4 linked regions of the Homo sapiens genome follow. The protein of the gene in region 1 interacts with the protein of each later gene in a biochemical or structural test. Each region holds a gene or a part of one and is shown in the gene's direction. Other genes may lie near its edges.

Region 1 (7,439 bases):
AAGATCTGTCAAGGAAAGCCCTTCAGACAAAAGGGAAATGAGACCATGGAAATCTAATCTATACAAGAGAATAAGGAGTCTTAGATATGGTAACTATGTGAGTAAATATAAAACACTTTTTTCTTATTGTTTAAATCTATTGAAAAGAATTGGCTGAAAATGCAGTATATATGTACAAAGTATTGAATAGTATTCAGTCTTAAACAGGAAGGAAATTCTGACACATTCTACAATGTTACAGATGAATCTTGAGGACATTATGCTAAGTGAAATACGACAGTGAGGAAAAGACAAATACTGTATGACTCCATTTATATGAGGTACTGTACCTAGAGAAGCCAATTCCTAGACAGGAAGTAAAATGGTGGTTGCCAGGCACTGTGGGGAGAAGTGAATGGGGAGTTGTTGTTAAACAGGTACAGAGTTTCAGGTTTGCAACATGAAGCGTTCTAGAGATGGATGGTGGTGATGGTTGCACAACAATGGGAATATATTTAATGCCACTGTACATTTCAAGATGGCTGAGTTGCTACATTTTATGTCTATTTTACCACAATTAAAAGGAAAAGAGAGACAGAGAATTAGTAGCTTATTAAGTAAAAACAATAACAATGTATGTGGGTGTACAACATATGTAGAAGTACAACATCCCCAGCACAGATGCTGGGGGAGGATGGAAGCAAATGGTTGTCAGTTTCTTATACTCTGTATAAAGTAGTGTATTATCACTTGGAGGTGGACTGTGATGAAGACCTATACTATCAACCCCAAAACCACCACTAAACCTCACAAGAAGTTATTCTTCCTAAGTGACAAATGAGATAAAACAATCACAAAAATGCCTCTGTCCACTGAAAAGGCCTAGAAATAGCGGTCCCCTGGAGCAGCAAGCACAAGCGTACATATATATTAAAAATTGTCAAAATGTACACTTTAAATATGTGCAGGCCAGGTGCGGTGGCTCACGCCTGTAATCCCAGCACTTTGGGAGGCTGCCCAGCACTTTGGGAGGCTGAGGCAGGCGGATTACCTGAGGTCAGGAGTTTGAGACCAGCACAGCCAACAAGGCGAAACCCCGTCTCTACTAAAAATACAAAAATTAGCCAGGTGTGGTGGCGCGTGGCTGTAATCCCAGCTACTCAGAAGTCTGAGGCAGGAGAATCACTTGAACCCGGGAGGCAGAGGTCATAGTGAGCTGAGATCACGCCACTGCATTCCAGCCTGTGCAACAAAGCAAGACTACATCTCAAAAAATAAAATAAAATAAATACATACGTATGTGCAGTTATGCCTATACTTCAATAAAATTGTTTCAAATAAAAGCACGATGAGCTGCCTGGACAGGTGAAAATTCCAGTGGTAGTCATAATGTCTTTCCATAGACTTTCTCTTCTCCTTTCTTTCAGGGACATAACAATATTGCATTTCCTGTCCTCTTTGAAATTAAGTGTTGCCACATGACTTGCTTTGGCCCATGAAATGTAAATAGAAGTTCTTATAGCAATTCCTGGTAAGTGCTTCTCTAACTAATGCACAATCAGTCCTAATGCATAGCCACTCCTACCTGAGTGATTGTGGAGATGCATTTAGATAAAACACACTCGGTCAGCCTGGGTCTAGGAGGGCCCATGAGCAAGTCTCTGCTCGTGGGAGTGGACAGGTAGTCTGAGCGAGGAACTTTGCTGCGTAAGTCATAAATGGGTTGAGAGATCTGCATTACTGCAGTTAATCTAGCCCATTCTGACTGAATATTCCCTAGCAACAGAGGTATCTGATCATGGACATAGTTTTGACAGTGGAAGGTAAAGTGGCCCAGTGACCTCTGAGGTGTCTACTTTCTTGAAGATGTGAGTTATATGTCATAGTCTCCACCAGCCTGGGTGTGGAATTGAGCTTCCATTTTCAAGTCTCCACTTGTATGTCTGGAATTTGGCTCCTTCTCAAGGTAACACCCAGGGATTGCTGAGTTCCCAAGTGCTCAGACACAAGTCCACTCATTTTCTTCAATTCCAGTTACCAAAGAAAGTCACCATTCCACCGAGGCTGTGACCAGTGCCCTCCACCAGGCCTAGCTCCAAGAATCTCATGCATCAAGCCCCAGGGCTCCTCACGTTGGGCATTAAATGTAAGGTCATGCCACATTCTTTAACATTGTCAGGAAGCAGGAAGGAAAGTACCAGATACTTGAAGGACCCACTGACCTGGAAAAAAGTGGGATCTAGTTTCAGCTTGAAAAAATCCTTCTTCATAATTACATTTCCCTTAGGCAAATCTCTAACATGCCTAGGCTTTTGTATATCTGTTTTTACTGCGTCACAAACCTCCCCCAAAGAGAAGGGAGACGATAACTGGAGAAAACCACAAATTAATCTTCCAATATTTTTTTCTTCCATATAATCAGCAGTGCCTCAGAATCAAAGCAGTCTCTAAAAATATTTTGAAGAAATTTATTTTCTTGGATCTTCAAAGATCCAAAGTTACTGAGATGCAAAGAATCTTCCACAGTATCATCCAAGGATACTGAAGGGCTCCTTCAAACCTCGCCCTTGTATATTTCTTCTTCCAGTTGTGATACTGCAGTTACATTTGCAAACCAAATGATCCCTTTGGGTGGTTTTTCCAAAACAAATCGTCTTTCCCAAAGGCCTACCTAAGTCTTCATTTTCCACAAAGTAGAAAACTGCCCACAGCTTTGAAATGGCAGCATAATTTGTATTTCTACCACCTTGTCCAGGTTTCAGGGATCTCTGGTCCAGTTTCAGTCAATAATGCTAACTATCACTGCAGCTCACTGACTTCTTTCTTGTACATAGCAGTTTTTCGCAGGAAGAAAACAAATCTAACGAATAGGAATAACTTCAGGTGATGCTGTTTTCTTCCCGCTTCCTGGGATCACTGTCTTTCCTCTGAAATGGTTTTAATCAGAACCAATCTGTTATACTCAGGAGCCTAAATCAAACACGACATGCAGAGAGACAAACAAGAAAGCAACAAATGATCTGAGCCACTGAACAAGAAATATATATAAAACAGTTTTAGGAATTACAGCTGTCACAACTTTTCACCATGGGGCCTTCTCTGTGATTTAGAAAAAACTGCATTTATTTGTTATTAGGATCGGAGACAAGAGAAAAATACCGACCCAAATAGCCACTGGGGAAGAGGGAAGCTCTGATGCCAATTTATGTGGAGGATGGAGCCAAACTGACTCACACACACACACACAAAAGTATGTACTGGCATTTTCCACACAGTCCAGGTCACTTGGGAGCTTAGCCAAGGATATTTTGAGCATTCGACTACCTATTGTGAACAAGGTTGGGAACTATGAGGCGCTATGTGGCCCTGATCAAGCTCAGATGGGCCAAATCCTCAACCAAAATTCTCTTTCCCATAAATGTTTATCTCTACATTTCCCACAGAAGGGGATTCTAACTCAGTTTTGCTTCTGAAACCAAACTATCCAAGGCCAGGTGAGATGACTCATGCCTGTAATCCCAGCAATTTGGGAGGCCAAGGAGGGAGGATGCTTGAACTCAGGAGTTCAAGACCAGCCTGGGCAACATAACAAGACCCCATCTCTACAAAAAATTTAAAAATTGGCGCGGTGTGGTCGTGTGAGCCCCTAGCCCCAGCTACTCAGGAGGCTGAGGCAGGAGAATCGGTTGGGCTGGGCTGACAGTGCCAGACCCTGTTAAAAAATAAAAATTAAAAAAACTCCTAAATTTGGAAACACATCCCCAGCTGAGGGCCGGGAGATACTTCTCAACCGTAATCCAGAACCCTCTAAAATGGGATGTGGAGAGGCTGCAGCCTGTAGTCTTGCGATGACCTTTTAGCACCTGGGCATCTTGCGCTTCTGTCATTCCGCCCACACCCGCTCAGCTCCATCCAAGAGGGCCCGGCAGTTTGGAGTGAAAGCTTAGCTTCCCAACGGGTAAATGAACCTGCCTCCCATTCACAGGGCGGCCTCTGGCTGGACACCTGGGGCCTACTGCCTCCTTGTTACACATTAACCAAGTTCTGGCCTCCATCGTAACAGCGTCAGGGAAGTTTTTTCCTGGCTGACAGCCGCAGATGATGACCGAAGACAACGTCTTAACTGAGACGGGCCAATTTGGCAAATGGACTGCTTTCCTCCCCAGTGCGGGCACCTTCCTCCTCTGTCCGGCAACTGGACCCCACTGTCCCCAGCCCTCTGTCACCCCCAAACCTGCCCACCGCCCGCCTCTACCCGACCCTCCCTCAGGGAAATCGGGACTCAGCCCCCAACGCCCCCACCTGCCGCTCTGCCCACCTCAGCGCACACCGCCAGAGCGCCCAGCCCGCGCACGTGCTTCCGGCGCGCGCCGAAGTCCTCACGCGCCCCGCCCCGGCCTCCCCGTGCGCACGCGCGAACGCGGGGTGGGCCGGGCCTCGCGTAGCCCATCTCCTCTTCCTCCTCGCGGTCGCGGCCGGACGGAGGGTGGAGGGCCCTGCGCCTGCGCGGAGCTGGAGTCCGGCTGGGCCGCAGCCGCTGGGAGACCGGCGGTTGCCGTGGGGACCGGTCGGGCCCCTCCCTCCTCCGGTCCCCCGCCCCAGGTCCTTCCCCACCGAGACGCGCCGGCGGACCGCGGGCGAGTGCAGCCGGTGACCCGGCGAGAGGCGGCGCCGCTCCCAAGATGTCGCAGACGGCCATGTCCGAAACCTACGGTACGAGGCCCGGGCTGGCGGGGCGCGCGGGTCGGGCCGCGGGGGGCGTCGGTGGCGCGGGGCCGGGCCTGGGCTGCGGGGGTCTTGAGGGTGGCGGTGGCGCCGGCCGGAGCCGGGGGACGGATCTCGGAGGTGTCTGGGCTTGGGACCGGGATGGGGGACGCGGGCCGCTGGGGGCTCGGGTGGGGTAGCGGGTGCGCGGGGCGCGGGGGCGCTGTGCACAGCGCATTGGCGTGATCCGCCTTTTCAAGTTTCCTCTTGCTCTTTCTCTGCTCTTGCACTCTTAGCGCTTTTCCCCTCTCAGTCTAATGTAAATAACTGAAGGTTTGAAAAGCCAGCTTGATGTTCGGTTTCAGCTGCGATATTATCCCCAGCGAGCCTGTGAAGGGCTTAGGGCGACGCCTGTGTTCCTCAAATACTTCAGTTTGACCTTTCCTGGTTTGGAATTCCTTGCTTTACATTGGGATTACAGTGAGGAGTTATTAATAGGCTAATTCATTCATCTCTTCCTCCGGAGACCTCTTGCTTCGTTTATTTCTCCCTCCCTCTCAGTGTTTTTTAGCCTTTTCTGGGTTGCATTTTGGCTATTTATAAACATGTCTTGTCTCCTTCTTAAGACCGTAAGCACCTTGGAAGCAAAGCCCTGGCTGTTTAATCTTTGTTTCCCCTGCAGCACCCAGACCTGGAGGTGCTTGACAAATACTGTTTTGAATAAGCGAAAGCTTTCCCAGTGCATATGCTGTGTGCTTTTTTTTTTTTCTCCCCTTTTTTGGCCTTGCGTGGTAAGAATAAACAACTTGTACTTTGTATCAGAGTTGAATATTAATAGATGTTTACCAGTCCCTAATCACTCTTTCAGATGTATGTATTCTCAGATTAAGACTTTGATTTGGAGTTTTACAGTCCCAGAGAGAGGCTCAAGTTCAAAATTACATACCTCAAGCCAAATTAGTCCTGTCTCCATCTGTCCTGGCATGCTGCTTCCTTCTCTGCAACAAATACTGTGGAATGGCATTAGGGAAGCGAGCACCGTGCTGGGAGGGCTGTACATCCTGCAGAAACACAGCAGACACGGCTCTGGTCTCATGGAGCGTAGTCTATTGAGGGAATGCAGTATTAATCCAATTGTGATACTAATGAGTGAATAATTAAAAACCAGGCAAGAGTTCTGAAGGAGTGTGGTCCGTGAAAGTGTGTTAGAAAGAAAGATGACCCAGACAGGGGTGTCAGGGAGGCATTAACCAGGCAGCACGCAGAACATCTCAGGCCTGTGGGAAGGGTAACTCAAGAAGGGTGTGTTTTGAGTACCACGCTGGAGAGGTGGATGAGGAGGCAGAGAGGAGAGGGTCTTGAGGAAGGCGTCAGTTTGTCTTGTAAGAAAAAATGGGAACTTTTGGAAGGGCTTCCATGCTGGGGTCACAGTGCATTTGGTCCACCTTCAGTGAGTGACTCCTGTGACTGGTACTGCCCTGTTCTTGGTGACAAAGGGGCATGACATCTGTTCCTAGAAGGCGTAGGAAATCCTCCAGTAAGTCGATGCCTTCATCAGGACAAGTGTTTGCAAATGTTTCTGCAAATGGCAGTGGTCTGGTTCTTCCTGTAGAGAACCACAGTCAGAAATGTTGTAAGGAAAACATGGTCTTTAGCAATTTTTGGTTACATCTTTGCACTTCTTTATTTTCAAGTGCTCTTTAGCCCAGGCTTAGTTTCTTTAACCTGAGTAAGGAGCACGGAGCACTAGGGGAAGGGTGGAATGTCCAAATAAGAAAAGCAAGTGGGGGTCATGAATCAGTAAGAAAGGATTGGAAGAGTTCAGGAGATAGAGCTTTTATGTTTCATTTTTCGTATACGCATGATAACAACTGATAAAATAGAGCTTATCTTTGGCATCTCCACTTCAGACACAGTTAACTGAACTTTTGAGCTTCACAGATTGATTACATTCTGATCATAAGGCTTTGACCATTAGTATTCTTATTTCATGGTAACTTCCAAGTATGTTTTTACTTTGCAACTCTGAATTGAATCTTTTCTTCTAATAGAGGAAATTAATCGAAAACTAGTAGAAACTAATAAATAGAAAATGAGGCCAGAGGTGATGGCTCACGCCTGTAATCCCAGCACTTTGGAAGGCCGAGTTGGGCGGATCACTTGAGCTCAGGAGTTCAATACCAGCCTGGCCAACATGGCGAAACCCCAGCCCTATTAAAAATACAAAAAATTACCTGGGCATGGTGGTACGCTTGTAGTCCCGGCTACTTGGGAGGCTGAGGCATGAGAATTGCTTGAACCCAGGAGGTGAAGTTTACAGTGAGCCAAGATTGTGCCACTGCACTCCATCCTGGGCAACAGAGTGAGACTCTGTCTCAAAAAAAGAAAATGAGTTTTAGAAGGAGCAAGCAGGACAGTTGAAGTTTGCCAAGCTGAAGTAAAAGTCACCTAGAACCAAGTCCTAGGCTGTCACTTTGACGTATCAGTGGCCATATTTATACAGCATTGTTCCTTAAAAGTGAAACAGTCAGGCTCTCTTCTGGACATTTGCCTCTGAGCTGGTGAAGGAATGTTTGCCTAACCTTTAAACTCCTTTGTACTCTGTGCTTATTTGCTCTTCTGTAAAAGGAGGCTCTGTGTAGCTTGACAGAGAGATGAGGAATGAAATGTACTGGGTTTTTGTTTCCCTTTTTTTTTTTTTTTTTTTTTGAGACAGGACCTCGCTCTGTCACCCATGCTGGAGTGCAGTGACACAA
Region 2 (6,954 bases), on another chromosome or scaffold:
ACCCTACCCTGGCTTTGGCCATGGTCTTCCTAGTTGCCACCTCAGTGACACTGCTCTGAAGAAGGGCACTCGGATGCGTTGTATTTTTGTAACTGTAATATATGTGCTTTAAAAGGATGTGTATTCCCTCTTCATTAGTAGTGAAGTGAATGTTCACACGTGCCCTTTAATGAGACTTGTAGTTGAAGTTTTTTAATCTTCTGTATCTTTAACTGTCTTTTTCTGCTAGCTTTATTCGTTTCAGAGCGAAGGGTGTGAAAAATCTAGCACCATGGTGTGGAACTTATACTTGTAATTCTGTCAAGTGTAGCTTTATTTTTAGTCTATGTCTTTAGGTGTAGGTTCAGGACTAGTATAAACTTTCTGGTAACTCTCTTTGACTCTAATAATGTTTTTTCCTTTAAAATTTATTTTGCTGATATTAATATTGTTCATGATAGTTAATTTTCTGTGCCAACTTGGAGGGTGTTTTTGGAAGAGATGAACATTTAAATTGGTTAAAGCAGATTGCTCTCCATAATATGGGTGGGCTTCATCCAATCAGCTGAAGGCCTGAATAGAAGAAACAGCAAGAGGGAATTTTTCAGCAGACTGCCTCCAGACTTCATCTGTCTTACTAGCTGCCCTGGCCTTTGACTGGAATGGCATCATCAGGTCTCTTGGGTATTGAGACCGCTGGTCCAAACTGTAGATTTTGGATTTGCTAGCTTCCATAATCACGTGAGTCAATTTCTGATAATAAATCTCTTTCTCTCTCCATATATATACACACATTCTACTGGTTCTGTTTCTCTAGAGAACCCTGATATATTTTTATATCACATTTATTTGGCTAATATTTTCTATGGTATCCCTTTTTTCCATTTCCTTTTGGAAATGGTGGTCCCTTAGAAACAGCAAATAGCTGTTTTATTTGATCTTTTCAGATGTAAGAAATAAATCAGATCAAGTACAAATTGCGATCCAGGATATTTTGAGTCAGTGTTGAGAAGCTTGCCTTACTGCATTTCCCGTACAGTTTATAAAGCGTAAAGATGAAGTACTTTGGCCTTTTTTCATGATTGTCTGTTATACATTAATTTTTTTAGGGAAACTATTTAAGCTGATTTGTCTATAGCTGATTGGCTTAGTTTCACTGAATCATGCTGACAAGGATATAAACCTTGCGTTTTGTGTTTATTATTACAGATGGTGTTTTGGGGAAATGAGGATGATGAGTTTTGGTTTGTGGTTATACACAGTTGGACTTGGGTATATCTAAACTGTGGCCTCCATTTTTATTTTTCTTTAACACACTATCTAAGACCTCTATGTTTTAGAGTAAACATTGAGTTTACTCTGTTTATATTTTCTGTGACCATGGATATATTTAGATTTATTTCTACTGCTACTTTATGTTTTGTTTTTATGACCATTTTTCTTTGCTTCCCACCCATTTCCTGCCTTTTGTTGAACAGATTGTTTTTCTCTTCTCTTTCCCTTAATGCTTGGGAATCTTCAATAAAACCAATTTCCAGGAAGAAAAAAATACCAGATATACAAAAAAGAAAGTTGAAACTGTCTGGGCCACAGAAGAACCTGGGTTATCATTAGTGAAAAACTCTACGCTTTTGTTAATGGAACTTATGATACAAAGTGCCCTTTTGAAACTTCCACTTGATGTTTTTGGTGTTGGTGACAGGTGAGAAAATCTACTCTTTAGCTAATAATAATCTATAAGAAGCTGTTTAGCTGTTTTGGTGTTCTCCTGGGCAGCTTTCTTCTTGGTGTGATAAGTTGCCCTGTCTAATACGGTAACCACAAGGCACATACAGCTATTTAACTTAATTAGTTTCATTACTTATACTTTAATACAAATTTAAAATTCAGTTGCACCAGCCACATTTCAAGCACCCAGTAACCCCATTTGGTTAGTGGATGCTATTTTGGACATTGCAGATTATAGAATATTTCTATCATTGCAGAAAGTTCTGTTGGACAGGAGGTGATAAGCTGATAGTAGTACTGCAGCTTTATACATTTTGAAGCAGAGCTATTGGGAGACGGCATCATATTGCAGAATTTGGAACTGACAATTCACATCAGCATTACCTGTTCCATTATCTTCTGCTCCTGTGGTGAACAGTGACCAGCATGAGATGCAATGCCCACCATGGAGGCTGCTGGGGGCTCCTACCCCTGCCCACAAACTCCAGGCTTGGTCCTCACAGGACGTTGGAGGTAATTTATATGGAGCAACAGCCTAGAGAGCAATGGTGATAACAGCAGCTGAGAGAAGCTGAGGGGCCAACTTCTGTACAGCAGTGGGAATCCTGACTTTTTGAATAGCATAAGAGGCCAAGCAAGACTGGAACATTTTTAGTTGAAGCCAGGTTGCAAATGGTTGAGCCTGGGCTAGACTGGTCCATAACGTCTGGTATTTCTTTCTTCCTTTCCTTTTTTTTTGAGACAGGGTCTCGCTCTGTCACCCAGGCTGGAGTGCAATGGCAGGATCTCAGCTCACTGCAGCCTCTGTCTCTCGGGTTCAAGCGATTCTCCTGCCTAAGCCTCCCGAGTAGCTGGGATTTCAGAGGCACACCACCACGCCCGGCTAATTTTTGTATATACATATTTTTAGTAGAGACAGGGTTTTACCATGTTGGCCAGGCTGGTCTCAAACTCCTGACCTCAAGTGATCCGCCTGCCTTGGCCTCACAAAGTGCTGGGATTACAGGCATGAGCCACTGCGCCCAGCCTCTGGTATTCTTTTGAAACTTTGACCTCTACCACCTTGTTGCCAGACTGGTTTAGGTATCATCTGATTAGGTGAAGATTACAGAGGTCTTCCCCGTGCCTGTGGCACCACTGGCACAAATGGTCACTAGCTGGAACTGATTTAGGACGGCACTGGCAGGGAAAACACATGCCAACCACCATCTGCCCCTTCATATCCTGAATGGGCAGGTGAGACTCTCTTTCACTTGGCCAGCCAACATACATCATCAACGTACATGTGCCCATTCATTTCAGGAACAGCTTTGTCTCTTTGAGGAAGAGAAGCTGAAAAAGACAAGCCTTTTGTTTCTCCCTCACTCCAGCATCATCTTGGCACTGGTAATATATCCAAGATATATTGGTGTTAGCCAGGCTCACATTTACCCCTTTGATTGGGTTAATTTTTTGAAGTTCCAACTTCTGTTGTTTCAAGTGTTCAACTTCTGTGCAGAGCTTATGAATATGATTTTTCGCCACTGAGTTCATTTCTTCCACAATGTAGGTATCCAAATTTTTTGTAACTTACAAAGTCAAATCCTTTGGATTTCCCACTAGGCTGTGTCATCACATAGACACTTTAGCATTGTACCAAATAAATGAAAAAATTTTTTCAGGTTGTCATCATTCATATCTTCCCCAGAGCTTTAACTTTGTGCTAGGTGCCTTGTTAAGTACAGGGATACAACACAGTTCAAGATTAAATGTCCCTGCCCTCATAAAGCCGCCCGGCAGGAAAAACAACTAATTAAGCTATTGTCAAGTTATTTACAATGAAGACAAAAGCACAATATGCTTTTGGATTTGTTTGATTTTATTACTCTTTAAGTTTGACATATGAAAATACCATACTTAAAACAGTTCATGTAGGGTACCTGAAACAAAGGCACTAATACAGTACTAGAAAGGTGGTGACGGATTTAAGAACAATTGTGCCAATTTCTAATCTGTTTTATAGTAAAGTTATAGAATTGGAGGAAACTGCTCCTGTACAACTTTGGAGGAGGGTAGGAGGAGCAGGGCGTGAGAATGCCTTTCCAGAAGCTTAGGAGTACGCCCAGTCGCTGCGTGGCTTCCCGCATACTCAGCCCTGCGCCCGCGTTGGCGTGGCCTGGGCGCCCCCAACGTGACTCCGCCCAGGGCGCTCCGTTCTGCCAGCTGGAAACTACAGTTCCCAGAAGGCCACGCGAGCCCGGGAGGGACGCGGCGGCGGGGGCTGCAGGAAAGGCGCGAGCAGAGGCGGCGGCGGGTGTACTGTAGGTGGTCGGTCCGGCAGCAGCCCGGCCCCCGGACGCAGGACGTGGCCCCAGGCAGCCCTCGCAGCTCAGTGCTCTAGCCGGGGCAAGCCCGCGTCTCCGCCTGCTGGACGGGCCCAGGCGAGATGTAGGGCTCTGGGCGCGGAGGCCGCCGGTGGGGCGGCTGATCGCGGAGGATCGCGGAGGGCGCGCCGAGGATGGAGAGAGCGATGGAGCAACTCAACCGCCTGACGCGCTCGCTGCGCCGCGCGCGCACCGTGGAGTTGCCCGAGGGTGAGCCGGGTCGCGGGGCCAGGCTGGCCGCGGGGCTGGGGGCGGCCAGTGGGGCAGGAGCTCCGGCCGCGTCAAGGTCGGGTGGAAAAACTAACTGAAAGCTGAGAAAACGCCCACTTTTACTTTCCAGAGCTGAGAGGCGGCCCCGGGCCCCGAACTCCCCTGGCCCGACGCTCCCACCCCGGCAGGTGGGAGTTTTCGGGAGGAAACTGGGTTGGTGGGGGTTCCGCTGCTGGGAGGAGCGAGACAAAGGTCTCGCAACGTCTGTCGATTAGGGGTCTTGGCAAAGGGGCAGGAATACCAGCCGGAGGCCCGAGACCCGGAGTCAGAAAACATCATAATTGCGGGTCATTTAACAGTAGCTGGGGATAGAGATGATCCAAAGATACTGTTTACTTTAAGCTGCATCGGGGGGCCAGGCGGGCTTTTATTTTTGTTATTTTTTAAAATGTGGGGCACTGCCTTGTTTTGATAACAGGCAAACAAAGGGTTGTCAAACATCAAACAGGTACTCTTAAAGTACTGTATGGGTAAACACAATATATTTTTCTTTAATATGCATGCCTGCCTTCATTCTTCATTTATTCATCAGACTAGTATTGAGTGGGCTAGCTGGTAACTAGGACGCATCTGCAAAGAGGAATAAGGCATGGTCCCTGAGGATCAGGACTTTTAGTTCAGCGTGCCAGGGTTCCCTCAGGACAGGTAAAACTCTGCTAATAACAAGGAGAGAAAATAAGCAGTTTTGTTTGCAGCGTCAGGAATTCAGACATTTTAGTGGTGATGGGAGACAGCAGTGCTGCTTCTAAGAAGCTTTTGGCTCTTTATGCCCAAGTGAGAGAAGGGTTGGGAGGAGGTTGTAGCTGGTGAATAGCTTTTTTCTTAATTGTAGTAGTTTATCTTACTTTTTCAAAACTCTCTTTGAATTGCTGCTGGGTGGTTTGTAGGATAGGGAAGGAGACCTTGGCAGACGGTCATGAAAGAAATGTGGGATTGGGTACTTTGGCGATAATTTTCTTTCCTTTCTTTTATAGAGATGAGGTCTCACTATGTTCCCCAGGCTGGTCTTGAACTCCTGGGCTCAAGTGATCCGCACCCTGCTCCCCCCAAAGTGTTGGGATTACAGATGTGAGCCACCGCGCCTGGCCTGGGGATAATCTTCTTGAAAAAATGGTCTCTAGTCTCTATTTAGAATTCAGATTTTGGTAACTAGATTCTAGCTTCAACTTTTTCTATATTTTCTTTCCAACTTCCACCTTTGAATCCATTTCTTAAGTGCTACTCTTACTTATTTTTCGTAGTCGAATTATTGGTATAGCTTTATGAAGACTACATGTATAATTTATATTGTCTAGTTTGAATCCCGATATTTTTTACATAAATGTGATTTAGAAGACTTTGATAATGTTACTTGGTTTTAAAAGTAATATAGTTTCATTGTAGAAAATTTGGAAAATAAAGAAAAATAGAAAAAAATATGTCATTTCACCATCCAGTTATAAACAGTGTTACCATTGTTATTTCTTTTTCCCTCCCTAACAAGTTAAAATCATGTTGCATATAGTCTTTTATTTTGTGTTTAGAAAACATCCTTTTTTTTTTTTTTTTTTGAGACGGAGTCTCACTCTGTCGCCCAGGCTGGAGTGCAGTGGCGCCATCTCGACTCACTGCAAGCTCTGCCTCCGGGGTTCACGCTATTCTCCTGCCTCAGCCTTCCCAGTAGTTGGGACTACAGGCCCCTGCCACCAGGCCCGGCTAATTTTTTGTATTTTTAGTAGAGACGGGGTTTCACCGTGTTAGCTAGGATGGTCTCGATCGCCTGACCTCGTGATCTGCCCGCCTCGGCCTCCCAAAGTGCTGGGGGATTACAGGCGTGAGCCACCGTGCCCCGCCCCAAATGTTTTTTTTTTTTTGTATTCTTCAATAGGCTTAATGACTTCAGAATTTCATAGGATGCATGTAACAAATGTTGAATCTAAATACTGTTTTTAAACTGATTTTATGAGAAACAGCTTTGTATTTAAGACATAGTCTGCCTCTAAATACTTCCTTAGGGTTAATTCTTACAAGAAGAATATCTACAATACATTTCTAAGGCTCAACATATCAGTTTCTCAACTTACTCCTTGGAAAGTTCCACCAGCAGTCCGAGAGTGCCCAGAAACTAGAGTATTATTAGTAAAAGTAAAACTTTTCCACATAGGCAAAAATGGCATCGTTTGCATTTGCTTTTCTTTGATTATAATGTTCATTTTGTTCCTTGAATTTAATTTATCTTTGTCTCTAAGCTCTGATGAGTCTTTGAATTCTCTGAGCTTGGCTCTTTAAAGTATATCATACATATAGGAATATATATATATATATGTAAATATATATGTAAATATATATGTAAATAAATATATATATGTAAATATATATATAACATTCCTACTGATACAAATCCACATTTGTGCTTACATTTTAAGAGCTGAATGGAAACTCTGAGATCTCTCTAAATTTAGAAAATAATCAGATTTTTTTTGCTTTGTTAGAATTCAGTAATCAATAAGCATCTAATTACAACAAACTATTAAACTTGTAAACTTTTTAGTCAGCTTGTACTCTAAAATTAATTTTGTTGCAAAGGTTGAAACTATAGATGTTTGATAAACTGAGTTGGATGCTATGTTTCCTT
Region 3 (7,035 bases), on another chromosome or scaffold:
GGCGTGAACCGGGGAGGTGGAACTTGCAGTGAGCCAAGATTGCGCCACTGCACTCCAGCCTGGGCGACAGAGCAAGACTCCGTCTCAAAAAAAAAAAAAAAAAAAAAAAAAAGAAAGAAAGATGAAAGCTGATGGTAGGACGTTAGGTTTAGTAGCTCAACATCCAATTCAGTAAATATTTGCTAAATCCCCTTATGCTAGGCACATGGAGGATGTGGAGGTCAATCCCATCTCCATATCCTTCGAGGAACTCAGAGCTTAATTTGCAAATTACTGCATTTGACATCTTTAAATGAATTCATATCTTATGTTTGCCTTGGCTGCAGAGTGAAGCCACTGATTCTAATCTGTTTTGTTGTGTCCCTAGACTTCTGTTAGGTGCCTGGATTAGAAACCTCAGATTGCTTCCTAAGCCTTTTCATCCATTAATTCGCAAGTCCCTGAGAAAGACCCCGTCTTATGTAACAGAGAGTAGCAATACTTGACAATAACAATAAGGTGCCTAATGGCTTACAAAAATGCCTACACTTGCTTACACATGCTTTTACTCATTTAATCTTATCTGTGTCCCTTCAAGGAAGGTAAGGTGCAGATTAGGATCTCTGTTTTATAGTCGAGGAATCTGAATGGAAGCCAAGAAGCCATGATGCTATTGAGTGGCCCATTTCACGTTGAAATCCAGTCTTCTGTCTTCAAATTCAGTGTACTTACCACTATCCTGCCCGGATTGTATTTATTCAGTATTTCCTGAGCACCTAGAATGTGTCAGTTCTGTTTTAGCCTGGAGATATCATGGTAGAAAGGTACAGAGTCCCTTGCTCTCATGCAGCTTATATTCTACTGGCAGCAAACAGAAAAATACAGCAGTAAATGAACAAGGGAATTTGGATGAGGAATAAGTGCTGGGGTGAAATCCCATCTCTATTAAAAATACAAAACTTAGCTGGGTGTGGTGGCACGTGCCTGTAGTCCCAGCTATTCAGGAGGCTGAGGCACAAGAATTGCTTGAACCTGGGAAGCAGAGGCTGCAGTAAGCCGAGGTTGCGCCATTGCACTCCAGCCTGGGCAACAGAGCGAGACTCCATCTCAAAAAGAAAAAAAACCCAACAAACAAAAAGAAAAAGAAAAGGCCTTGCTAGGATGGTGACGTTTTTGCTGAGATTTGCTCCCAGGGACGGGCCAGCCATTTGAAGACATGTCAGAAGGAAGAGCAAGGGTAAAGGCTGTGAGGTGGCAACAAGCTTGGTAAGTTCCAGAAACTGCAAGAAGGCTTACAATGGCAGGGACAGGTGAGTCAAAGGCAGAGTGGGGAGGTGGGTGGATGTAGGGGATGGAAGTGGTAGGGAGCGCTCAGATCATACAGGACCTTGTCTGCTAGAGTAATGAGTTGGGATTTTGTTCTAAAAGCTGTGGAAATCATTGGAGGTTCTGGAGAAGGGACGTGGCATGATCTATTTTTGTTTTTTAAAAAAATCACTCTGGCCTCTTTGTGGCAGTGAATTTTAGAGGGCATAGGAGTGGCAGCCAGGAGGCTAGTTAAGAGGTTAGGTGAGAGAAGATAGTGGCTTTCTAGGTTGGTGGCAGTGGAGATGGTAAGAGGACGGATTGGGGATGTGTTTCGGAGGTAGAACCAGCAGGATGGCGGGATGAGGGTGAGAGAATAAGGATGACTCCTGGGTTTTTGGCCTGAGCAATTAAGTAGATGTTAGAGATGCCATCTGCCTCTGAAATGATGAAAGGACTTTTTGGTAAGGGGCCCTATGAGGAAGAATTATTCATAGTTTATTTTGAACCCTGTAGAGGAGAGGCACAAGGTATAAGCATCATACTTTATAGTCTGTGGGGAGGAAATCCCAGATTATGCTGGCAGAAGCTAGCCAGGTGCAACTGATTGAAGCTTGACGTTCTTACTGTGAACCAAAAAAAAAAGTCCTGCTTTTCTACAGTCTGGCTTTTTGCCAGCCTGTGGAGCGGCAGGTGTGGGCTTTGCCAGGGCAGTACCCATCTGTCTTTCTGTCTTGTGCTGTTGGCATTGCAGTGCTGACTCGGGATCTTGGCTGAGGGAGCCTGGCCAGCTCTGGAAGAGGGAGCGGAATCACTAGTGAAGTTCACTTGGTGTGCCAAATGGCCACATTCTCCCTGCCAAAGTGGTTCTTTCCTGGTCACCAAATGACAGTTCTGAAGTTTCAGAGCTTTTGACTTCAGAATCCCTGGAAAACCTATTGTACTCTACCAGAATTCCTAGAGGATTCTTGAATCTCTTCTGAGCAAGGGAATTCGAGCTTCATTGTTATGTATTCCAGTAACTGTACTTGTAAATCTGGGCATTACAGGGTTGTACATTCAACATTGTGAATAGTAAAACTAATAGTCTTATCACTGCCACTTGTTTATTTAATTAAATTTAATAAATTTATTCATTTTGGAGACAGGGACTCCCTCTGTCACCCAGGTTGGAATGCAGTGGTGTGATCATGGCTCCCCCACAGCCTTGAACTCCTGGGCTCAAGTGATCCTTCTACCTCAGTCTCTTGAGTGGCTGGGACCGCAGGCATGTACTGTCGTGCCTGGCTAATTTAAAAAAAAATGTTTTGGGGACGGGTGTGGTGGCTTATGCCTGTAATCCCAGCACTTTGGGAGGCTGAGGTGTGCAGATCACGAGGTCAGGAGTTTGAGACCAGCCTGACCAACATGGTGAAACCCCTTCTTTACTAAGAATACAAAAATTAGCTGGGCGTGGTGGTGCGCACCTGTAATCCCAGCTACTCAGGAGGCTGAGGCAGGAGAATCGCTTGAACCCGGGAGGTGGTGGTTGCAGTGAGCTGAGATCGCACCACTGCACTCCAGCCTGGGCGACAGAGTGAGACTCCGTCTCAAAAAAAAAAAAAATTCTGTAGATGGCTAGGCATGGTGACTCACACCTGTAATCTCAGCACTTTGGGAGGCTGAGGCACGTGGATCACCTGAGATCAGGAGTTTAAGACCAGCCTGGCCAACATGGGGAAACCCCATCTCTACTGAAAATACAAAAATTAGTCGGGTGTGGTGGTGCATGCTTGTAGTCCCAGCTACTTCGGAGGCTGAGGCGGGAGAATCGCTTGAACCTAGGAAGCGGAGGTTGCAGTGAGCTGAGATTGTACCACTTCACTCCAGCCTGGGTGACAGAGTGAGACTCCATCTCAAAAAAAAGAAATTTGTAGAGACGGGTCTTACTGTATTGTCCAGGCGTCTTGGCCACAAGTGATCCACTCACCTTGGCCTCTCAAAGTGCTGGGATTACAGGCATGAGCCGCTAATTTTTTTAGAAAACTTGGTCTCACTCTGTTGCCCAGGCTGGAGTGCAGTGGTGCAGTCATAGCTCATTGTAACCTCCAACTCCTGGGCTCAAGCGATCCTCCCACGTCAGCCATCCAAGTAGCTGAGACTACAGGTGCATGCCACTACACCCAGCTAATTAAAAAAAAAAAATTTTTGTTTTTAATTTTTATTTTTTGTAGAGATGGGGTCTTGCTATGTTACAGGCTAGTCTCAAACTCCTGGCTTCAAGCAATCTTCCTGCCTCAGCCTCCCAAAGTGCTGGGATTACAGGCATGAGCCACAGCACCTGGCCACCACTGCTATTTGTATAACTTTGCAGTTTAGAACGCTCTTTCCTGTGCATTCTCATTTACTAATTGTCAATCAGTTGAGATCATCTGGACTACATATTATCCCTGGTTTACAAATGAAGACATTGTGGTGTGGAGAGGTCACTTGTTTTTGTCAGTAATATTGAGCATTTTCTAGGTGCTGAGTTAGGGAGATCCTTGCTGCTCAAAGTGTGTTCTCTGTGACAGATGTACCATGTCCCCAGGACCTTGTCAGAAATGCAGAATCTAGGCTGGGTGTAGTGGCTCACGCTTGTAATCCCAGCACTTTGGGAGGTCAAGGCAGGAGGATCACTGGAGGCCAGGAGTCCGAGACCAACCTGGGCAAAACAGTGAGACCTCCTCTGTATTTTTAAAAACAGAAGAAGAAGAAGAAAACAACAACAATAACAAGGCCCAGATCTAATAAATCAGAGCCTGCCTTTTACCAAGATCCCGGATGTTTCCTGTGCACATTAAAAGTTTGAGATGCTCTCACCTAGGTAATCAGTAGCAAAACTAAGACTTACCAATGATAATGACAATGAAGGTAATAGTCGTAGCTAAGATACATTAGCCAAGCACTGTTGTAAGCACTTTACACATGTTGTTTCATTTAGATTTAGACCTCACACCAATCCTGTAACACAGATTTCCAGAAGAGGAAAGTAGAGGCTCAGAAAAGTTCAGTAACTTCCTGACATCTGCTGACTCCAAGTCTATTGCTCTTTCTACCATTCATTCGCGTGTTCATCTGTTTTTCAGGTGGGCAGTGACCACATCTTAGCTGTCTTGTCAAAGGCCTTTCTCTTCCATACCTGCATAACTAATTTTAAATGATGACCAAAAAAAAAAAAAAAAACAGTGACTTGAAAGAATGTTTGAGAAAATCAAGGGAAAAACTTCTGAGCTAGATGGGTGTCAGTTACTTGACTGATGAGGCCGCAAACAGATATCTCATTTGGTCAGATAAGCTACCTCTCACACTTCTTAGTGATCTAACTTCAGGGTCCGAACAGCTGAAGCAGGTAGGAACTGTGAGCTTGTATTCTGAGTCATTTAGCTCTAAGCTGTTTCTTGATTCTGGTGATAAATATCTACACTGGGTGAGAAGATAGTGGATAAAGTCCCATATAACACCTGCCAACTAATTGTTAAAACATTCCATCTCACTGTGCCTCAGTTTTCTCTCTCTGCCCTGTGGGCTCATTATTTTCCTTTCAACACCTCCTGTCTTTCTAGACTCTCAGAAAGATATATTGGTCGAGGACTATGCCATTATAGGAAATTTTGACCTGAAAGGATGGTGGGAACTGGGTAAAGGCAGGATTCTATCAATTCTGCTACTTGCTGTGTGACTTGGAGCAAGTGACTCAACCTCTCTAGGCCTCTGTCTTGCGCATACATATATATATGTAAAATAAAGATATAGGACAGTTCTTCCCAAAGCCCTTCCAGCCCTGCCCACAAGACTGAACCTTGAGTTGGGTGATATTTTGTTCTTTCTTGGTGACTTCATACTGAGCTTTCTCCCAGACCTTTCGGGTGTGGCTTTTAGAGCGTATTTCTTGGCAGTCAGAGAGCATTACAATCAGCTCATCTTATCAGCATCACACATCTGCACAGCAGCTTGGGATGTTCATGTTTAAGGTTCAGTTAATCATGGTGACACATTGTGTCTTCTCACTTTGTCACACTGATTGCGGACATTGAGCTCTTCACACAGGAAGATCTATCTTTAGCATGCTGATTTATTTAACTCATAATTTGCATTAGAGAGGGAACCAGTGATAATCATGGTGGGTGTGGCTTTTATTTTTAAAGTTTTTGGCAAGACATTTGCAGCACTTGCATTTTGTCATGCTTGAATATAGTCTATAAATGGAAATGGGTTCAAGTGAAATAGAAATTGCCATAGATTATTGGGAGCTTGGGACTTAACCACTCTGGAGTCCTTCATATCACCTTCAGCAGTGCTTTCAGGAAGGGCTTGCTTGGCCTTTTGTGTGTGACATAAATTAAACAGAAACTAAAAGCTCATAGCACAATCTCTAGCAGCTTAGCAGACTACAGTAATCATTACTTTGTAACACATTTCAGAACATAAGCAAAAAATCTAGCTGGCAAATCATAAAAGATTCCATCTAGGTAAGATAAAATATCAGTTCAAGTTACCTAAAGATAACCACAAGAAGATAGTCCTTGGTGGAAGTAGTTACTGGTTTTGCAAGATCTGCAATAATAAGTTAGACTCTGGCCTAAGAAATATATGTAATGTTTTTCCTTATTCTTCAATTGTCAGCCTTTTAAAAATATATAATTTTTTCCGATTATAAAAATAATAAACTTCCATTGAGTAAAAAAATGAGGAAAATACTGAACAGATTAAATAAGGCTGACTTTAAGATCCACCACTGAGAAATAACTACTGTTAACATTTTACTGTCCATATACAAATGTATTCCTAAATACATTTTATCTCATAGGCTTGCAGTTCTCACCTGTTTCCTCCATTGTTGTTATTTAGGCCATTTTCAACATTTAAACATTATGAGTAATGCTTCAGAGAACATCTTAATGATGATTATTTTGTGTAAACCTTTGTCTGCACTGCTGATGATTTCTTTAAACTAGGTCCTTTAATGTTAAAAATTTTAAATTACAAAGGCAACCCCCCTTAAATAATGTTTTTAACATGGCAGTGTTAACCTAAAGCTGAAAAGACAGACAGAATTACAATTTGGTTGGGGAATTTACCCATGGTGATGGTATCCTAACTCAGGTTTTAGCTTACTTGACTACTTGCAAGTATATTTTTAGAAAGTTGTATTCAAAGCATATTTCCCATTTTCTATTTGGAAATGTTTGCTTAACATTATTTCATAACCATTTTTCCATATTTTTGTACTTATTTATTTCAATTTTTGTTTCATTTTATTTTTGTAGAAACAGGGTCTCACTATGTTGCTCAGGCTGGTCTCAAACTCCTAGGCTCAAGCGATCCTCCTGCCTTGGCCTCCCAAAGTGCTCAGATTACAAGTGTGAGCCACCAGGCCCAATCTATTTTTTTTATTTGTTTATTTTTGAGATAGGGTGTCGCTCCGTTGCCCAGGCTGGAATACTGTGGCATGATCATAGCTCACCGTAACCTCCAGCTCCTGGGCTCAAGTGGTCCTTCCACCTCAGCTTCCTAAGCAGCCAGGGCCACAGGTGCGTGCCACCACTTGTGGCTAATTTTTAAATTTTTCATGGAGGCAGGATCTCACTATGTTGCTCAGGCTGGTCTCAACTCCTGGCCTCAAGCAATGCTCCTGACTCAGCCTCCCAAAGTGCTGAGACTACAAGTGTGAGCCACTACGCCTTGCTGTGTTTTTGTGTTTAGTAGTTATTACTACATGTTAGTAGTTTA
Region 4 (3,747 bases), on another chromosome or scaffold:
TACTAAGTCTTCCAAACTATGAACATGGGATGTGTTTCCCTATATCCTTGTCCGCTTCAGTGTCTTCTTAAATGCTTTGTTATAGATTGCTCGCTGTAAGCAGCTCATCTGTGACCCCAGCTACGTAAAAGATCGGGTAGAAAAAGTGGGCCAGGTGATCAGAGTTATTTGCATCCTCAGCCACCCCATCAAGAACACCAATGATGCCAACTCCTGCCAGATCATTATTCCACAGAACCAAGTCAATCGAAAGTCAGGTGAGGTTTGAAGACCAGCAGATGTTGGTAGAATTTTGTAAGATATAATTTGCTTTGTGTTTTATCCCAAATTCCTAATTTTGTATGCTGTATTAGTGAACAGACCTTGGTTTACATATGGGGGAAAAAAATCTTTGTACCTCCTCCTGCTCCGGCAGCATTGTGTCAACGCGGACAGATTCAACTCGGAGCCAGCCTTGGACTTGTGTCCATCACCTGTAGAATGAACAGACTGGGCTTGGTGAACCCTGCGTCTCCCAGCTCTAACTAACAGTAGGTTCCTGTGGAGGTTTATGCTTAATAGTTAACTGACCCGAGTATATTCTTGAGCTAATGACATAGCTGCTTCTGTGTCCTTATTTGTAATCCTAGTACCTACATTTGATTCTAGCAGTGTCCACCTTTCATTTCTGTGATCAGGACATGGCTCTAAAATTGCAAGTCCTAACTTATTTGTCTTAGCCAGTTGTTTGTAACCCTTCGATGTTCCCATTTTCCTTTCAACTAGAAGCCCCAAATCTTTTTATTTATCTAAAATTCAGCTTAAAAAGGGTAATCAGGCTTTATGGGACAGGTAAGAGCTATCTGTATAATGATTTTTTTTCCCCCATATAAGAAATGAAATCATGGGAGGCCAAGGCAGGAGGCTTGCTTGAGGCCAGGGGTTCAAGACCAGCCTGGGTAACATAGTGAGAGCTCGTCTCTACAAAAACAAAAAACAAACAAACAAAAATGGCTAGGTGTGGTGGCACACACCTGTAGTCCTAGCTACTTGGGAGGCTGCGGTGGGAGAGGATCACTTGAGCTCAGGAGTTTGAGGTTACTGTAAGCTGTGATTGCATCCCTGTCTCCAACCTGGGTGACAGAGCCAGACTGTTAAAACACAAAAAAAAACCAATCACAAAAGATGATCTGTAGAACAAAGGGACTGGACTTAATCTTCCACAAGGTTCCCAGGCGGGTCCTGGGTCCTTGCAAGTCTGAAAAGAATAAAGGAGGTCCCAGAGTTTTTTTTTTTTGGCCTTTAAATGCTCTCCTATCCAAATGATTTTCTATCCTGGAAATGACACAGTTAACTGGATGAGTGGTATACAGACCAAGTCTAATCGAGAATTCTATCGTTATGCCAACTCAAAAGTGGTTTATGTGGATTCTGCAGTTTTACATTACTGTAATAAGTAAATGAGGACGTCAGTACTAAGTACATCCTTTCTTAGCCATTCAGAACCTTTCTAAATGCAAGGTCCAGAATGGAAGAATCTCCCAGAATAGTTAATATGGTTTGGCAGGTTTTTTAGTTAGGTATGACAGAGCTGTTAAGAGATCTCATTCCAAACTTCAGCAGTTCGCTACCACTTCAATTCTTAATCTCTAGTAGGTTAAAAGAAATTCCTATTGTTAAATATCTGTGTACTTTACATCCAACTCTGTCACCATTTAGAACTTAAGTGTAGAAGATCTTGCCTATTGAGAGTAATTTTAACTCACACCTCATGACATATGGGTGATACCTGAGTATGTTGGGTCCCAGATGGAGACACTTGAGGCAGTGAGCTGGTATCATTTGTTTCTAGATATCTACGTCTGCATGATCTCCTTTGCGCACAATGTAGCAGCACAAGGGAAGTACATTGCTATAGTTAGTACAACTGTGGAAACCAAGGAGCCTGAGAAGGAAATCAGACCAGCTTTGGAGCTCTTGGAACCAATTGAACAGAAGTGAGTTGTGTTCTTTTATATCTGCCGAGATGCAAACTGAGGCCTTTGATTGTGGCTCCATGGTGGGACGAATGTGAGGGCAAGGCAGGTAGCTGCTGGCTGCTCTGTGGGATTCATCTGTACCTCTCAGTTGACCTCAGGCAGAGCCATGGTCAGGTGTGGGACCAGCTCACCTGACTGAATTCTCTCTCCCTCCAGATTTGTTAGCATCAGTGACCTCCTGGTACCAAAAGACTTGGGAACAGAAAGCCAGGTGAGTATGGAAGTGTGAAAGGATATGGGCAGGTTTCACTGGAAGACATCCCTCCATGGTCTTAAGTCTTCGTAATTTTTGTTTTCAGATCTTTATTTCCCGCACATATGATGCCACCACTCATTTTGAGACAACGTGTGATGACATTAAAAACATCTATAAGAGGATGACAGGATCAGAGTTTGACTTTGAGGAAATGAAGCGCAAGAAGAATGACATCTATGGGGAAGACTAACAGCAGTACATGTTATTATGTAATTAGGACACATTTAAAATTTGGCAAATAATGCATATAATGAAATCAATATTGTAAGGCCTGCTTTTGTAATGAAAATGGAGAGAATGAAGAGCGCTGTGCCAGTAAATACTCCCCTTCACCTTTCTAATTATTAACTTGTTTTCATGGAGTGGCTATTCAGCATTGGCAGTTACCACATTCTGTTCAATTTAACCAAACTGGCTTTTTTTTTTTCTAGTGAAGTTAAACAAACATTGGGATACCGACACAGACAACTTGAGACAGTTTTTTTAATCTTTTAATCAGTGTAGCTATGTGCTGCTGCTGCTCAAGAGCTGGATCCATACAGGTTGTGTGTCATCTGTCCTCTTGAGGTTCAGGAGATTCTAAATTGAATATTCCACGGTTTGGGACAGCATCCGGAAGTTTTCCCTATGACTTTATATTTTGTATTATGTCAAATGTTATGGCAGGGCCCAAATAGCATAGCCACAAGTTTGGTTTATGTGGGCATAAAATTCTAACCAAACCCCAGACATAGGGAGTCATTTGGAGAAAGCCTGTATGTGGTGTTTTAACCTAATAAAGTTGATGAGAGAGAAGGGGAGAGGAAGCGAACATAAAGCGGGTCAAGTGTAGTGCATCTTTTGTATCTCAGGCGTGGCTTCTTCAGTGGACCAAGCTGCAATGCAGTATTGACTTGACAGAGCCTCTACTTCTGTCTCAAAATGGCTCCAAATGATTTCTGTACTGCAAAATAAAGCCAAATTCTGGAAACTACTGCCCGGTGTTGGTTTGTGTGTCCTGATTGCAAGGGTCACAGCTGCCGTGCTTCCTTTGGTAGCACTGGAGTCAATGCCAGTCAGAATGCTCAGCAGCGGAAAGCGTGGGTGTCTTCTGATCTGGAAGGATCACAGCAGGTCCTGTCGTCTGGCTTCCCTGTGAGTAGACCTCGAGTTTTATTCTTGACACAGTACCATTACTAGACCTATCATCTTTGTGCAGAAAAAATAGTGTTTAATGATTTTGCTTGTAGCAGCAGTTATAAGGGAGTAAGTGAACTGTCAGGTAGAGTAGGTGCTTTAGTAAATAATTTTTGTGTAGTTGAAATGATAAAGTGTTTACATATAAGGCCCTTTCCCCTGACAGTGATGAGCCTCACGGCAGATGCTGTTGTTTACCACAGATAAACACTGACTCTTCAGAGTATGAAGGAGACAGACTAAGGTAGATGATGTGTTAAAGGAACTAGGGTGGTGATTTAGATTGTTATTCATATT

What was found.
Region 2: the proteins of RAB4A (region 1) and HACE1 form a complex in vitro, tested with the Homo sapiens proteins (one study listed by BioGRID).
Region 3: the proteins of RAB4A (region 1) and KIF3B form a complex in vitro, tested with the Homo sapiens proteins (one study listed by BioGRID).
Region 4: the proteins of RAB4A (region 1) and GDI2 form a complex in vitro, tested with the Homo sapiens proteins (one study listed by BioGRID).

Annotation. Positions count from the first base shown.
Region 1 is NC_000001.11:229,266,679-229,274,117, forward strand, and holds the start of RAB4A (ras-related protein Rab-4A), read left to right. Parts: upstream 1-4,432; 5' UTR 4,433-4,661; coding exon 4,662-4,692; intron 4,693-7,439. UniProt on the Homo sapiens protein: The small GTPases Rab are key regulators of intracellular membrane trafficking, from the formation of transport vesicles to their fusion with membranes.
Region 2 is NC_000006.12:104,856,893-104,863,846, reverse strand, and holds the start of HACE1 (E3 ubiquitin-protein ligase HACE1), read left to right. Parts: upstream 1-3,927; 5' UTR 3,928-4,204; coding exon 4,205-4,280; intron 4,281-4,300; exon of another isoform or gene 4,301-4,468; intron 4,469-6,954. UniProt on the Homo sapiens protein: E3 ubiquitin-protein ligase involved in Golgi membrane fusion and regulation of small GTPases. Acts as a regulator of Golgi membrane dynamics during the cell cycle: recruited to Golgi membrane by Rab proteins and regulates postmitotic Golgi membrane fusion.
Region 3 is NC_000020.11:32,280,629-32,287,663, forward strand, and holds part of KIF3B (kinesin-like protein KIF3B), read left to right. Parts: exon of another isoform or gene 1-1,245; intron 1,246-7,035. UniProt on the Homo sapiens protein: Microtubule-based molecular motor that transport intracellular cargos, such as vesicles, organelles and protein complexes. Uses ATP hydrolysis to generate force to bind and move along the microtubule. Plays a role in cilia formation.
Region 4 is NC_000010.11:5,764,723-5,768,469, reverse strand, and holds the end of GDI2 (rab GDP dissociation inhibitor beta), read left to right. Parts: intron 1-85; coding exon 86-257; intron 258-1,831; coding exon 1,832-1,976; intron 1,977-2,174; coding exon 2,175-2,229; intron 2,230-2,317; coding exon 2,318-2,464; 3' UTR 2,465-3,247; downstream 3,248-3,747. UniProt on the Homo sapiens protein: GDP-dissociation inhibitor preventing the GDP to GTP exchange of most Rab proteins. By keeping these small GTPases in their inactive GDP-bound form regulates intracellular membrane trafficking.